2 separate regions of the Homo sapiens genome follow, and region 2 is reported to be linked to region 1. The links are microRNA targets in miRTarBase. Many come from high-throughput screens and were not tested one by one. Region 1 holds a microRNA gene; the other region holds the end of a gene's coding sequence.
The links. The annotated mature microRNA hsa-miR-186-3p reads GCCCAAAGGUGAAUUUUUUGGG and lies in region 1 at 2,793-2,814, opposite strand. An mRNA with a match to its seed (bases 2 to 7 or 8) in the 3' UTR can be bound and repressed. Matches are read on the target gene's strand: a 7mer-m8 pairs with bases 2 to 8, a 7mer-A1 pairs with bases 2 to 7 and ends in A, and an 8mer does both.

Region 1 (4,360 bases):
TGTAAATAATGAATGACAGAACATCTATTTTGGGACATTATGGCTTAAAATGCTATTTACTTTTAACTTCACAAATAAACACAGCTGTATTGTTTTGAAAAGCAATGAAAGGCATGCACCTCTACTAGCAGATTTAGCACTTCTGACCAAGTAAGACACCAACTTCTTTAAAAATATGCTTCATGCACTGTACTGGATTTTTTTAAGATGTAAATTTTAATACATTATTTCTTTTTTGAACTTGAACGGGAACCAGAATGGGATGATCCAGATGATGACCTGTGGCGTCTGTAAGACATAATGGAGAGAGTAGGCATTCTAGTAAGCTAGAGCTAAATCTCAGCATTCATTCTTAAGACTGTGAAAGTATACAAAATTCAGTACCATGATGCTAGCAAAAAAATTAAAAATTGAGATAGGAACTTACACACATAAAATTATCTGATGTTTAGACTTTGGATATGAGCCCAGTTATCATATAAATACAATAAAAAATTCTCTACAATTTCAAAAGAATCTCATTTCAAAATATAGCCACCTCTCAATTATTTAAGATATCAAAGAAAAGCCTTGCAAAAATGTGTAAAATTACAGAAAATGTACAACAAAAGCATATAAACTTGGTAATGGAAGTGTGACTAAACCAATCCCTGTGACACGGTGTAGAAAGTGTAAGAAGTCTATTATGTAAAAAAGATACAGCAAGGCTTCTGTGTATGAGAAAATATACTCATAAATAAGTTTTGGAAATCTAGGTCACACAAGATGATTGTACAATTTGCTATAGGGTTATATTCATGCAGCTAGTATGAATAAGTCAATATCAACCTGGGTAAAGTAGTGGTGTTCCGTAGGGGTTGGCCCTGGGCTCAGGGTTGTTTAGTGTTTTCACCAATCACCTGGCTTATGGAATAGAGAACATGTTCATTAAGTTTAGATGACAACAAACTAGGGGGATTATATGTGGCTAAGATAAAAATTTGCAGAAGTGGTAAGAAAGCAACAGAATGAATTCCACTCAAAAACAGAGTAATTTTTTTTACAAAGAAACAAATGCAGAGAAACAAGACTGTGTGAAATCTTAACATCTAAACTCCAAAATGTGAAGAAGCAAAACTAATCATTCTGTACAAGTAGGAATCATGAGATAATCCTACCACTGAACCCAGCAATTAATAGACTTTACATAATCTTTATTTTCACAAGCTAATAAAATATGAAAAATTTGCAAAGACTACAAATAAAGCCATTAAAATGACTATATAATTGGGAACAAAGAGAAAATTAATGAAACTGAGTAATTAGCCTGTTGCAGAAAAGGCTGACAGATGACAGTTGCATTCTTCCAATATTAAAAGTGTCAGTACAGATAAAGTAACCTAATATAGGCCTTTCTCAAAAAAGATTTGGACTGCAAAATGAAAAATGTATTAGCTACAAGGAATAATTTCCTTATAGACAAAGGGCATGAAGCAATTTGCTGTGGAAATGCATTTACACATATTTAAATGAGGACAGATTCCCAATGATCTGAAAGTTAATTTTTTATTAGATGCTCTAGAATTCTTGACTATTAGTATTTAAAGAAGCCTAAGTATAAAAGTCAACTCATAAATTACTTCGACATACAGCTTCTGAATTGCAATCTCAAAAGACAGAAATAACCGAGAGTTGGCTATAAAAATTATAAATGGAACTAAAAATTTAAACAATAAAATGATCAAAGAATGGTTTGATCTACAATTCTAAACAACCTGATCAAAGTACAAAGGATAAGCAAAGTAATGTTTTTTTGAAGTTCAAAGTTGAAAAGTAGAAAGTCGGAACACAAGAGATAATAAAAATCTAACCCTTGACTAGGAAAGTTTACTTTATCTATTAAACACACTTAAGAACACCCATTCTTATTTCTACAGAAACCCAAACCTTTCGGGTGACCGTGATCTTGTTCGTCTTTTTTTGCGATCACCAGATGAAGAAGATCTAGAACGACTTCTCTTTCTGTTCCTCTCAGGAGAAGATGATGAACTTGAATAAGATCTTTTTCGTGGGGAAGAAGAGCCCCTGTGGGACCTGGAGCTGGATCTTCATTGATTGAGAAACAAATCAAACATTTCATTAAAAGAAGAAATAAGGAAGATTATTTAGTTATCAGATAGCTCCAAAAATAAACAGGATTTATAACAACTATGAAAATTTTATAAGGAAGAATACTTACTGCTTATTCAACAGAAGACTTCTGGATCAACCATGAAAACATTCTACTTAAACATTTTAATTTTGTCTCTTTAAAATTCTATCATGTGTAATTAAAACCCTGCTTACTATATCAAAATAGAATTTAAACTTTTTTTAAGGCTTTTCAAAGTATACACAAATATTATAGTATTATAAAATCAGCAGATAACTGCATTAACAGGACTTTACGTTTAGGAACTACATCCTTCCATTTGAGGATTAAAATATGTATCTTATATACCACTTCCTGAGGAAAATAAACATAATTCCATGTGGAATTATTCAACTCATTAAACTGTTATGGAAAAACCAGGTATATGGCACAGCAACAAAAGACTAGTAACTGTACTTAACTGCTAAATATTCAAGAAGAAATAAAAACTAACTTTAAGATGATTTATATTTACAATACTATTTTTATGAAAACCCACTACTTATGAAATATGAAGTGTTGACATTCACATGCTTCAGGTAGAAGTAAATGTGCAAATGTTTAAATACAAATTTTTTTTCTTCACTTGTATATTTTGGTTGAAGGAATTTAGCTCAAACTTCCCAAAAAATTCACCTTTGGGCTTAAAATAAAACCAGAAAGCCCAAAAGGAGAATTCTTTGGAAAGTTACAAGCAATGAAAAAATGTTTGGGAAGAATATGATGGGTGTTCTGTAAACCTTAATTATAATGGTTCCCAAAGGGAATACCAGAACTTAAGGATTTTTACCTATAAAGCGCTTAAATATTGTTACTAAATAATGGTAACAATAAAAAATAATTTGCTCTCTACTTCTATTTTTTTTTTTTTTTTTGAGACAGGATCTTGCTCTGTTCCCCAGGCTGTGGTGCAGTAGCATAAGCATGGCTCACTGCACCCTTAATCTCCAGGGCTCCAGTGATCCTTCCACCTCAGCCTATAAGAACACACCACCATGCCTGGCTGGTTGTTTTAATTTTTATTTTTAGTAGACGAGGTCTCACTATATTGCCCAGGCTGGTCTTGAACTCCTGGGCTCAAGCAGCCCGCCCACCTTGGCCTCCCAAGGTATTGGGATTACAGGCGTGAGCCACTGAGCCTGGCCTTGTTATCTATTTCTTATTGGCTTATAATGCAAGTGTGCACAACATTCTTTTCTCCTTAACATGATTATACTGTGGCAGCCCTTTAATGCTAAATTTGATTCAAAGCAGCAAATACTTTTACCAAAACAGCCACAGTTAGACTTCAATATGAATTTCCACAAATATGGAATTTCATTTTCTTATTTATTTTTTAGATGCCTTTAGGTCATAATAAATTAACTTAAAAACAAAGAGAGCATATTTTGACTAAACAAAGAAAAATTTCCTGCAAGAGCATCTTTCAAATTATGTTTCCCTCTACAGATGTGACTACATGCAACCTGAAACTTTAGAACACTGTTTACTACTTAAGACCACATCCTATCTCAACTAACCGACTATACTTCCTGATTTAGTTTTGAGTGTTTTGTGCTCTATAAATAATAGCGTGTGTAAAATTAGAAAGGAAAATGTATATACAGTACTCTAGTAACTTTATCTGATATAAATGGCAAATTTGTTTCTGAAAATATTGAAACAACTGCCGTGCAAAACAGGACCTGTTTTGAGGCAGGGTTATTTTTCTTCCTTTTAATAATGAAGAAAATTTTTCTTTTTATTTACATATGTAATTTTATTTGAACTACTATTAATTTTTTTTTTTTTTGAGACACTCCTCTGTCACCCAGGCTGGATTACAGTGCTGTGATCAAGGTTCACTACAACCTTGAACTCCTGGCCTCAAGTGATCCTCCCACCTCAGCTTCCCAAAGTGCTGGGATTATAGGCATGAATCACTGTGCCTGGCCATATATAATCTTAATATACTAGAGATGTGGCGATAAGACTTGGCTTCATCTTCCTACTTCATAACATCTTAGTGCCAAAATAATAAACGCTGCATATTGCAAAATAGCCACCTGATTTCAATCATGGGAATGTCTTGGCACACTGCTGGCAATGGAAACATTTCATGGTGAGAAAATTAAGCTGAGGCAAGTGCATTAGTTTTCTAATGCTAAAATAAAATCGACAAGTAGAAGCAAAATAAGGGGAAAAAAAGCA
Region 2 (4,398 bases), not on the chromosome of region 1:
GAAGTGATGGGCTATAAATCCAAAGAAGCAAACTGAATGGCCTTGAATTCCAAGCTTATGTGTTTGGGCTTGGTTTTGGGCTTAATAGGAAGCTTTTAAAAGTTCTGAGGAAGGGAATGCCATGATTTGTAGTTTTTATCTAGAAAGATAAATCTGGGCAAGACAGGGACTAGAATAGAGCCCAAGAGGCCAACTGCGCTATTGCCACTAGAACAGTAGCACTGGAGATCTCCGAAAGGTGCAAATACTGGAACCATCCTTGAGACTTGCTAATGATTTAGAAGTGAAGAGATGAAAGATGGAAGGGAAAATGTTATAGAAGCCAGGGGAAAGAAAAGTGCAAGATTATCAAGTGTCAGGTACAGTAGGAAACTAATAAAATCCTGCTGCATATAATAACTGGAAAGAAACACAAAGAGGATAGCAGTGTCAAATGAAGGGTACTCTAAATGGGAGACATATGAGCATATGTATAAGCCAATATGAAAAAAATCAGCAGATTGAATATTATTCAAGAGATGAAGGCTACTCTAGAAAACTGTGACAATGTTATAGCAATACAAATTATCTTGCCACTTCATTTTTTATTTAAATATGTGATAGTTTAAGCAGTAGTGCCTAAGATAATGCTCTACTCAGTAGACACTCATATGTGTGATTATTGGATGAACAACAACTCTGAGCTTGGAAAGCCTGGTTGAAGCTGCCATTGCAACTGGCCGTATTAAGTCCTTTGTATCCTCACTGTTCCATACTAGCTCAGCCTATGATGTGGACTTCAGCAAATGTGTAAGCAAATCTTTGTGCATGATGTGTGTTAAATAGAAGCATTAGGCAAAAAAGAATGTAAAAGTAAATGGGCTTTGTTTTGTTTCCTTTGCTGTTCTTCCATATATTATCTATTCTATTTTAGATTTACAAAAAGATTTCTGAAGACAGAGCTCCTCAAACCATTGTGGATATCTTCTGCCTTCAACCACAGATCAAATACTTCAAGAGCCATTTAATAAATATGGCAGAACTATATATGTGTCTTAAACCTCAAAGTAAATTTTCCTTGAGAAATAATTTATGTTGAAAAGATTTCCTGGCCAAGTGCAGTGGCTCACACCCGTAATCCCAGCACTTTGGGAGGCCGAGGCAGGCGGATCACCTGAGGTCAGTAGTTCGAGACTAGCCTGGCCAACATGGTGAAACCCCCGTCTCTACTAAAACTACAAAAATCAGTCGGGTGTGGTGGTGCATACAGTAATCCTAGCTACTTGGGAGGCTGAGGCAGGAGAATTGCTTGAACCCAGGAGGCAGAGGTTGCAGTGAGCTGAGATCACAGCCACTGGGCGACAGAGCGAGACTCCATCTCAAAAAAGAAACAAAACAAAAAAAAAAGTAAGATTTCCTGAGACGACCAAGGAGAGTGTCAAGGTTCCTGGAAGGAGAAATAAAAGGAGGCATAAGTGGATTGCAGATAATTTTGTAAAATTCAATATTCTACAAGGATAATTCTAAGGCTTCTGATATAAATACCCAGTTCTACTAGTTGCCATATATAGAGGTAAGTGAGCAGTAATAGGACTGTCATCTCAGCTCACTTGATACGTCATATGTTTGGGTGAATGATGGTTTTGTCCTTAAGTTTTAGACATTTAATTATATCTAGAGGGCCAGGCACAGTGGCTCATACCTGTAATCCCAACACTTTGGGAGGCCAAGACAGGCAGATCACCTGAGGCCAGGAGTTCTTTTTTTTTTTTTTTTTTTTTTGAGACAGAGTCTTGCTCTGTCACCCAGGCTGGAGTGCAGTGGCACGATCTTAGCTCACTGCAAGCTCTGCCTGCCAGGCTCATGCCATTCTCCTGCCTCAGCCTCCCAAATAGCTGAGACTACAGGTGCCCGCCACCACGCCCAGCTAATTTTTTTTGTATTTTTAGTAGAGACGGGGTTTCACTATGTTAGCCAGGATGGTCTCGATCTCCTGACCTTGTGATCTGCCTGTCTCAGCCTCCCAAAGTGCTGGGATTACAGGTGTGAGCCACCACACCCGACTGAGGCCAGGAGTTCAAGGCCAGCCTGGCCAACATGGTGAAACCCGGTCTCCACTAAAAATACAAGAAAATTAGCCAGGTGTGGTGGCGGGCACCTGTAATCCCAGCTACTAAGAAGGCTGAGGCAAGAGAATCACCTGAACCCATGAGGTGGAGGTTACAGTGAGCTGAGATCACGCCACTGCACTCCATCCTGGGCAACATAAATAAAAATTATAAAATAAATAAAACGTATTAAACTTGTGAAAATACTTGGGACTTTTTATGTATCTAGGTACTTCAGTTTTTAAAGTTTGATTTTGTGAGATGGGTTCTAATATGTCCGATTTCTCTTGCCCTGTTTTACAACTAATCTAAACAAAACAGTCATTCTAGTTTATATTCTGTCTTCCGAGAAACATTGAGAAGCAAGCTGTCAGGCTGGTGCTTTTAATGACAATGAAAATTTTCCTTCCTTTGCATTTCCTTTAACATTGTTTCCTCTACAATCAATCTTTTCTTATCTTCTGGTTTATATGAAACAGACTCTATAATGCAGTCAACACATTGATTCCTTGACCTATATTTTAAGAAAATTCCTGCTGGGTGCAGTGGCTCACACCTATAATCCCAGCACTTTGGGAGGCCGAGGCAGGTAGATCACTTGAGGTCAGGAATTTCAGACCAGCCTGACCAGCATGGTGAAACTCTGTCTCTACTAAAAATACAGACCTGGTGATGCACGCCTATAATCCCAGCCACTTGAACCCGGGAGGCAGAGGTTGCAGTGAGCCGAGATTGCACCATTGCACTCCAGCCTGGGCAATAAGAGTGAAACTCCGTCTCAAAAAAAGGAAAATTCCTCGTTGTTTGGTTTTTTCGTTTGTTTATTTGTTTGTTTTTGAGCCAGAGTCTCACTCTGTCATCTAGGCTGGAGTGCAGTGGAGCAATCCGCCTCCCTGCAACCTCCACCTCCCAGGTTCAAGCGATTCTCCTGCCTCAGCTTCCCGAGTAGCTGGGACTGCAGGTGCACGCCGCCACGCCCAGCTGATTTTTTGTATTTTTAGTAGAGACAGGTTTTCACCATGTTGCCCAGGCTGGTGTCGAACTCCTGAGCTTGGGCAATCCACCTGCCTTGGCCTCCCAGGTGTGAGCCACCTCACCTGGCCCAAAAACTCTTCATTATTTGAGCTTATGTGTACTATAGGTTATTAAGTCTTCAGGTTCTAGAAACAGTGGGTCGATTAAAACTCCTGAATACAAAATTACTAGAGACTCATTATTCCAGAACTAATCAGTAAAGAACTCAGAAGGAGAGTGGAAAGACTGGTATGCTTTTAAAAAGAGACTTTTTTTTTTTTTTTTTTTTTTGAGACGGAGTCTCACTCTGTGGCCCAGGCTAGAGTGCAGTGGCGCCATCTCGGCTCACTACAAACTCCACCTCCCAGGTTCGCGCCATTCTCCTGTCTCAGCCTCGTGAGTAGCTGGGATTACAGGTGCGTGCCATCATGCCCAGCTAATTTTTTGTATTTTTAGTAGAGATGGGGTTTCACCGTGTTAGCCAGGATGGTCTCGATCTCCTGACCTCGTGATCCACCCGCCTCGGCCTCCCAAAGTGCTGGGATTACAGGCGTGAGCCACCACGCCCGGCCTCAAAAAGAGACATTTTCAGCTTTCATTATCATTTTATAAATATGTCTAGCATTGAAGTGCCTTAACTCCTGGGCTCAAGGGATCCTCGTGCCTCAGCTTCTGGAGTAGCTGGGACTACAGATATGCGCCACCTTGCCAGGCTTACGTTTTATTTTGTTGTGGAGACGGGGTCTTGCCATCTTACCCAGGCTGGTCTCTAATTCCTGAGTTAAGCAGTTCACCTGCCTTGGCCTCCCAAACTGCTGAGATTACAGGTGTGAGCCACGGCGCCCAGCCAATGTTTAGTTCTTAAAGACAGCAAAAATATACCCAAGGACTACTGACTTCCCCTTTTCTTGATTTGCCAATTCAGTCACATATTAGAACTGTAGAAACAAAGGGGCAAAGAAATGGCTTCTATCTTCAAAATTGCCAACTTAAGAAACACGCTAGCCGGGTGTGGTGGCTCACACCTGTAATCCCAGCATTTTAGGAGGCAGAGTGGGCAGATCACTTGAGGCCAGGAGTTCAAGACCAGCCTGGGCAACATGGCAAAACCCCGTCTCTACAAAAAATACAAAAATTAACTGGGTGTGGTGTTGTGTGCCTGTAGTTCCAGCTACTCGGGAGGCTGAGGTGGGAGAATCGTTTATGCCCAGGAGGCGGAGGCTGCAGTGAGCCATAATCACCCCACTGTACTCTAGCCTGGGCAACAGAGCCAGACCCTGTCTCAAAAAAAAAAAAG

Region 2: the mRNA of PRIM1 is a reported target of hsa-miR-186-3p. The part of its 3' UTR that is shown has no 7-base or 8-base seed match.

What each region holds. Positions count from the first base shown.
Region 1 is chr1:71,064,850-71,069,209 of GRCh38, forward strand. MIR186 (microRNA 186) reads right to left here and starts at 2,867; the gene lies at 2,782-2,867. It overlaps ZRANB2 (zinc finger RANBP2-type containing 2), which reads right to left. Exons shown (of 10, transcript NM_203350.3): 9 at 1,927-2,085; 10 at 1-288. The coding sequence ends at 225. It overlaps ZRANB2-AS1 (ZRANB2 antisense RNA 1), which reads left to right. Exons shown (of 3, transcript NR_038420.1): 3 at 1,917-2,335. RefSeq lists a silencer at 3,654-3,703.
Region 2 is chr12:56,728,250-56,732,647 of GRCh38, reverse strand. PRIM1 (DNA primase subunit 1) reads left to right here. Exons shown (of 13, transcript NM_000946.3): 13 at 914-1,068. The coding sequence ends at 933. Among named protein-coding and RNA genes, the nearest start is that of NACA, 5.2 kb to the right of the region's middle.